2 linked regions of the Homo sapiens genome follow. The protein of the gene in region 2 interacts with the protein of the main gene of each other region in a pairwise test. Each region holds a gene or a part of one and is shown on either strand. Other genes may lie near its edges. The genes, in order: ARNT2 and TACC3.

Region 1 (3,811 bases), on a different chromosome or scaffold from region 2:
TAAAACAAGATGTCTTTTCTTTGCAGCGCCTGAAGGCAGCTCAAGTATAGTTGCCCATACTATTCTCACATCAAGCTAAGGAGCCCTTTGCCACTGAATGAAATGGGCTTTGTGCCTGCAGGAGCCAGGCACTAAGTCTTCCCTAGACACTGTAATCCATGGCCACCCTTCCAACCACTTCAAGTACTGTTCAGGCTCCAGAGGACAAAGGTATCCTTCTAGGTCAGCAGCTAGCAAACATCTTTTGGCTGGCAATCTTTTGTTTGAATGTAATCTTATGTGAAAACCCCACTGTAAAGCACATGGACAGCCAGCAGAGTGAAGGCAAAAGGTGGAGAGTCTGGCGCCCCAAATCCCAGTAACTGAGCAGGGTACAAGGACCCAGAGACTAGGGAACATTGATATGCTGATGAGCAGAACCCAGGGAGCTTTGTAAATGTGTCTAAGCCCTTGGCTGGGGAGGAATTCTAACATCCTCTGCCTGGGAAACCAGGGCAGAAGCAGTTGGTACAAGCATTTTTTAAGGATAAGTTTATTTTGCCCATTTCTCTTGCTTTGCACTTTTGCTGTTCTGCGTCACCTAGATGCTTAATTAGTTCAGGGAATTCGGTCAGCATTTTTATTTTCAGTTTTTGGATGATCTTCCCAACAGAAAGAGCTGTTAAGAGAATTAAAAACGGAAGAGGGTGCCTGGGGAAGTACAGAATTCTTTGTCACTGGAGGAGAGGAAGTGGAGACTGAATGACTTTACTCATGAATTCACATTTTTGTCCAGTTTGCAAAGACTGTGGGGAGGTCTTATGGGATGAAGCCCTGCTCGCATCACGGACCCTCTTTTTTCCACCCTCCTCCCTGATGTGTATTCCCTGGGAGACCATCTATCACTACCAAGTTCCTGTGCCCTGATCCAGAACCAGCCTCTACACTCCAAGAAAACAGTCACGGTTAAGAGCATGTATTCTGGAGTAAAAGGAGACTATCACCTACCGCTCTCCCACTTAGCTGTGCAACTTTGGGCATGTTACTTCACGCCCTCAGCAATGTTTTTCAGTGAGCTCTTGCAAGGTTAAATGAGATGCTGTGTGTGAGGACTTAGTAAGGGCCTGGCACACAGTAGGTGCTCCATAAATGTAACCATTATCATCACCATCCAAGCAGCTGAGAGAGGAACAAAGGTAGGGCTCATCTGACCTGCATAGCTGCCTTCTCTCTTCACGCCACTTTCATAATCCTCAGTCACTTAAAGATAACGAGATTCATTTCAAACCTTGACTCTGTAGGTCTTTTGGTGAGGATTAAAAAAATATAGACAAAAAACTGATTCTAGCAGCCAGTAGTGCTCAATAATTTCTGTCTGTTACTTACCAGCTATTTACCCTTCATTATACCTCAGGCCCATGTTAAACAGTCTATGCTTGTTGCCTTCCTCACCACAACCACACGAGCTGGGAGCTATCACTGCATTTATTTTTACAGAGGTGGAAATGAGGCTTGAAGCTCCTGCCCTGACCACCACAGTTTGTGTCCTCCAAGTGGCACATATTACCACTGCTGGACCTTCCTAACATCTGCCAAGCGAGGGCTCCCATGACCACTGGGATGATTTAGAAAGGGATCAAATAGGTGAAGTGCTTGCTAAAGTGTCTGCCACAGAACAGACAGTAATAAACGTTAGTTCCTCATCCCTTATTCTTTTTAAACCTAACTTCCATGACATAAATCGAGTCTCGGCTCTAGCAGAATAAATCATTAGGTCTCCCAACAAAATCTTTTTCATTCCTGCCTGTGAGGTTCTGTACACACTCTTCCCTTTTTGTGAAATCCCTTCTGCTCCCCTCTTTCTAGGTATTTTTTGTGGCTCCTTTCTATGCCAATACTGTCTCTGTCCTGAGAAGTCCCTCTTGATAATACCAGGACACTTCCACTCTATTTCAGCTTGGCCACACGCTGTGTCTTGTTAAATCCTCCATTACTTTTAGGACCCTATACCCTACATACTTTTGCATTTCCTAACTGCATGCCCTGACAACTGTATTATTTCACCTCCCCACCCCAATGCCCCCCCACCGGCTATACACAATGAAGTGCTTTCAAATCCATCACCTCATTTATCCTGCAAAAGCTCTTGGAGACAGGAAAGCAAAAAGCTTTATGTTCATTTCACAGATGAGCACACTGAAGCTTAGAGTATTTGCCAACTTGCCCTATGACCAGCACATGGAAATACAAAGACCCTGAACACAGGCCTCTGGCTCATGTAAAGCCACTTATAAAATACGACCTCACTAGCCATTTTGTGCGTTTCTTCTTGCCAACTAGTCAAAGACTAGTGTAGGTGTTAAAAATATGGCTTTGGGGTCCTACCAGCCTGTCTTCACTGGACCCAATCTTGGCTCCTCCACTAAGCAGCAGATTAACCCTGAGCAATCTGCTGACTCTAAGCCTCAGCTTCCTCATCAATAAAACAGAGCTAAATAACAGTGGCTTCTTCACAGGGCTAGAATAAGTAGTAAATGAGATATTTCACAGAAAACTATGACTCACACCAGGCACCCAGCAAATGCCGGCCGGCTAAGTGCTCTGATCGCGGCTACTATTATCACTACTGCTGCCATCACTGTCTTTTTTCTTTAACTTTTTTCAGGGGTACACATGCAGGTTTGTTACGTACTGCCAAGGGAGTAAACTCATGTCACGAAAATTTGTTATACAAATTATTTCATCACCCAGATCCTAAGCCCAGTACCCATTAGTTATTTTTTCTGATCCTCTCCCTCCTCCCAACCTCCATCCTCTAGGAGGCTCCAATGTCTGTTGTTCCCCTCTTTGTGTCCATGTGTTCTCATCATTCAGCCCCCACTTACAAGTGGGAACATGTGGTATTTGGTTTTCTGTTCCTGCATTAGTTTGCTAAGGATAGTGGCCTCCAGCTCCATCCATGTTCCTGCAAAGGACATGATCTCATTCTTTTATATGGCTGTGTAGTATTCTATGGTGTATATGTACCACATTATCTTTATCCAATCTGTCATTGATGAACATTTATGTTGAGTCCATGTCTTTGCTATTGTGAATAGTGCTGCAATGAACATACGTAAGCATATGTCTTTATGTAGAACGATTTATATTCCCTTGGGTATAAACCCAGTAATGGGGTTGCTGGGTCAAATGGTATTTCCGTTTTTAGCTCTTTGAGGAACCTCCACACTGCTTTCTACAATGGTTGAGCTAGTTTACACTCCCACCAGCAGTGTATAAGTGTTCCCTTTTCTCTGCAACCTCACTAGCATCTGTTACTTTTTGACTTTTTAGTAATAGCCATTCTGACTGGAGTGAGATGGTATCTCATAGTGGTTTTGATTTGCACTTCTCTAATGATCAGTGATGTGGAGATTTTTTCATATACCATCACTTTCATAGGCTGATCATATCAGCACAATTCCAGCATACAGCGTTTTTACTAACTTCTTCCTGTGTCAGTGTGCTGAGCACGATGTTCAAATGCTCAATATATTTTTTTGAGTGACATCCCATTAAGGTTATGGGAAACATAAAAGCAGAAGACCCAAAGATCAGACAAACCCTCTTTTGAAGACAGCTTCTTGGAGAAAAATGGAAACAAAACATGTTGGCTTCATTCCTTCCTCAACCTTGAGCCCTGGTTCCCCACGTAGTTTATTTCGTCTTGGTGACGCTGGGATTCCCCCCGCTTTCCAATGGTGATGTGATGACCAGGGTACCTGCTCTGTGAGGAAGGAAGGCTTGTACGCGCCATCGGTGGACTTGTTCCCTGTACCCCTCATGGACTTCA
Region 2 (3,811 bases):
ACAACACAGCAGTAGGGCTACCTGTGTCAGGAATAAGAACCCCTTCCCCTCCCTTGTTCAGGTGTGCTCTTGCCATTGCTCCATCTGCGAGGGGCACCCTTTCTGCAGAAAGTAAAAACTGCCTTGCTGAGAAAATTAATGTTCGAGCACTATTTCTTTGTGGCACCAGAGAACAAGCATTGTGCATTTCTAACATAAGTTACATGCAGGGGCCACCTGCCCCCGGAGCCCAGGCCTGCAGAGGAGGGGGCCAGCCACACTGTGGTCCCCAGGCCTGCTATTGGGTTACTCACACGGGCTCTGACACAGGGAAGGAGGTTGTTGGGGTACGGGGTCAGGGCCACATCACAGGCCTCTGCGGAGATGACACCTGGGGCCACTGTGAACAACACTGGTGTGGATGTTGGGGCTTGAACCCAGCCCTGCCAGCCGGCCTCCGGAACCACCCTGTCTGCACCTCCCTGGGGACCATCTGGCGACGGTAGCTCACAGTGGTGCCTGCAGACACCCAGCCCCTTTGTGTGCCTACAGCTCTCTTAGGGACAATTTAGGCCCGGAGTTAGAACAGGCTGAAGCCTGGCATGTACAGTGAGGATGGAGGGAGACAAGGCACGGGACCCTCAGATGTGGGGTGGGTGAAGATGGAGCTTCCTAAGCTGCCAGGAGATGCGTCTGGACTCGTGGGAGGGCGGGAGGAAAGGGGCGACACTCGGGCTCACGGCAGCAAGAACCACACTCACTGCTGCAAGGCCACCAGAGGCCAACGCCATGCCCAGGCCGGAGAGTCCCGGGGAGGCTGCTGGTGGGCAGCTGACTGCGGGGACACTGGGTGGAAGCCTGGACCCTCAGCGACCTGGGCAGTAGTGACAGGCCAGGGGCCGGCAGCTCTCTGCAATTCCACCCCAACCAGCAGGGGCAGGGATGGCAGGGATGGCGGGTCAGGCTGTTGGACCCCTGCCCACTGTTGGCCAAGCCCCAGAGCGGCCTGCAGGTTCTGTGGAATAGCTACTACCTGCGTCCTTACCACTGCATCCAGGTCCTTCTGGCTGTACTGGAGCAGGTCCACTATAGGTCCGGTGGACAGGGGTGGGCCCCCAGGCGCGGGAACACCTGGGGGTGGGCCTGGCACCTGCGGGAGATGGGGATGAAACAGGAACCCATTTCGCCCTTGCCTCTTACCTCTGACCTAGTGTGAGGGAGGAAAGGCCCACACAGGCCAAGAGCCTCAGACAGTGCATGAGGGACCCGAGACAGTGCGGCGAGGGAACAGCACAGCGGCCCCATGCCCCCAACAAAACCAAAGGCTCAGACCCCCAGGAATAGAAAATATAGGCCCTTAAAACAACTCGTTCCCTCAGACCACACACAAGACAGTTCAAGAGGGACTCAAGGACTTACAGGAATGTCCAGTGCTCCCAAGAAATCGAACTCCACAAGCTTGGCTTCCCGCGGACGTCCTGAGGGAGTCTCATTTGCACCGTGCATGCTGCCACCAAGCAGAGGCAGCCTCAGTCACTAGGCCCTCCCAGTGTTGAGTAGGACACAGAGGACCATGTGGACAAGCTAACCGGGCTCTTTGCTTTTTAGTTTAAAACCACTCAAGTCAGGGTAGTGGTAGAAAACGCAGACCCGCATCCAGCATGCCCGGCCTCTCTGCTGCTCCGTGCCCCCCTCCCTCACCTGCCCATCCCACGTGGCTGCTTGTCCTTCCGGGAGAGCACGGTGACGCTTCATTACCCACTGCAGGCTGAGCGGAGCCAGTGCTGCCTCATCAGGGGGCTGTTCACAGCTCAGAGCCTTTTTTTTTTTCTTTTTCCGAGACAGGGTCTCACTCTGTCACCCAGATTGGAGTGCAGTGGCATGATCTCGGCTCCCTGCAACCCCTGCCTCCCAGGCTCACCCGATTCTCCTGCTTCAGCAACCCAAGTAGCTGGGATTACAGGCGCCTGCCGCCTCACCCGGCTAATTTTTGTTATTTTTAGTAGAGATGGGGGTTCACTATGTTGGCCAGGCTGGTCTCAAACTCCTGACCTCAGGCGATCCACCCGCCTCAGCCTCCCAAAGGGCTGGGATTCCAGGTGTGAGCCACTGCGCCCGGCCATGTGTTAGGATTTGAAGGCCACACAGCCTCTGTCACACTACTCAGTTCTGGCCTTGTAGTGTGAAAGTTGCCACAATTTGCAAAGGAACGGGCATGGCTCTGTGACGATAAAACTTTACACAAACAGGCAGTGGCCAAGTCTGGCCCACAGGTGATAGTTTGCTGACCTCTATTTTTTGGTTTTTTTTTTTTTTTTTTTTTTTGAGATGGAGTCTCACTCTGTTGCCCAGGCTGGAGTGCAGTGGCGCAATCTCAGCTCACTGCAACCTCCGCCTCCTGGGTTCAAGCAATTCTCCTGCCTCGGCTTCCCAAGTAGCTGAGACTACAGGTGCATGCCGTCACACCCGGCTAATTTTTGTATTTTAGTAGAGACGGGGTTTCAACATGTTGCCCAGGCTGGTGGCAAACTCCTGAGCTGAGGCTATCCATCCACCTCGGCCTCCCAAAGTGCTGGGATTACAGGCGTAAGCCACCGCGCCTGGCCTGCCGACCTCTGTTTTAGAGGAAGTACTCTTAAAAGATTTAAGTTTAGATCTTTAATATACCTAGAACGGTGGCTGTAACCAGCAAGGCAGCAGCCCTGTGGCTGGAGGGTAGGCTGCCGTTGCTCCTGCCAGACACACAAGGGCTGCTCTGGCCTTGCTGCCCAGCCCACCCCTAGCACAGCTCCTTTCCAGTTCTGATCATCTCCCCCCGGTCTAGAAGCCTCTGTGCAGACAGCACACCTAGGAACAGCCTCCAGTCTTCCCACACTCAAGGCTTCATGCATGAGGGAGGGCCGGCGCACATACCTGCTGGTCTCGGTGGCCACGGGCACTGGTCTACCAGGACTGTCCCTCAGGAGGGGGTCGAACTTGAGGTATAAGGACTGCTTCCTCAAGGCCGACTCCTTAAACTGGGGACAAGAGGGCAAGTGATCAGGTCTGACTGCCATCCCCTAACACACACGGGGGCTAAGGGCCAGGGAGGTCACCTGCACACTCCCACCCCCGGTCACCCGCACACTCCCACCCCCGGTCACCCACAACCCTGCCCGAGACACCACCATTCCCAGCAGCACAGCGTGTCAGAGTTTCATCCTGGGCTAGGCACCAGGTAGAGAGCCCTAGAGCCCTGCCACAGGACACCACTTAGAGGAGGTGCTGCAGAAGGGGCCCTGGATTCACAGCCCGCCACAATGCCTGGGCCTGTGTGCAGCTGGGGGGACGTGGGCACCAAGGGACGCTCCGGGGGCAAGACCTGCCGTGGCTGCTCTCGGACACCCTGTGGGTGAGGCTTCGCGGAATTGCCTGGTACCTACCGAGGAAGTTCCAAACTGCTCCAGGTAATCCACCTCCGCGCCCGTGCCTAGAACTGAGAGGAGTGAATCATGCCGCCGCCATCGCCCCTCACCAGGGCCCTAAGGGCGGCGGGCTGGTGTCTCCCTCAGCACTCAGTGAGGCAGGATCATTCCAGCCAGCAGTATTTCCTCCCTTGGAGGTGTGGATGTTCGGGGCCTGACTGCTGTCTGCGGCAGGCGCCTCCTGGGCACCGCAGGGTGCTGAGCGGCATCCCCAGCCTCTACCCACTCCCTGCCAGCAGCACCTCCAGGTGTGACAACCACAAACATCTGGGGAAAGGCGGGGGCAAAACTGCTCTGGTTGAGAACTATTAGTCTTTAAAATTACCCTAGACAAGTCTTTTAATTTTTGATAATATAACTTTTGATTA

What was found.
Region 1: the proteins of TACC3 (region 2) and ARNT2 interact in a two-hybrid assay, tested with the Homo sapiens proteins (one large-scale study listed by BioGRID and IntAct).

The regions. Positions count from the first base shown.
Region 1 is NC_000015.10:80,470,361-80,474,171, reverse strand, and holds part of ARNT2 (aryl hydrocarbon receptor nuclear translocator 2), read right to left. Parts: coding exon 3,741-3,811; intron 1-3,740. UniProt on the Homo sapiens protein: Transcription factor that plays a role in the development of the hypothalamo-pituitary axis, postnatal brain growth, and visual and renal function. Specifically recognizes the xenobiotic response element (XRE).
Region 2 is NC_000004.12:1,734,916-1,738,726, reverse strand, and holds part of TACC3 (transforming acidic coiled-coil-containing protein 3), read right to left. Parts: intron 3,455-3,811; coding exon 3,402-3,454; intron 2,997-3,401; coding exon 2,893-2,996; intron 1,487-2,892; coding exon 1,399-1,486; intron 1,130-1,398; coding exon 1,025-1,129; coding exon of another isoform or gene 1,013-1,024; intron 380-1,012; coding exon of another isoform or gene 335-379; exon of another isoform or gene 1-334. UniProt on the Homo sapiens protein: Plays a role in the microtubule-dependent coupling of the nucleus and the centrosome. Involved in the processes that regulate centrosome-mediated interkinetic nuclear migration (INM) of neural progenitors.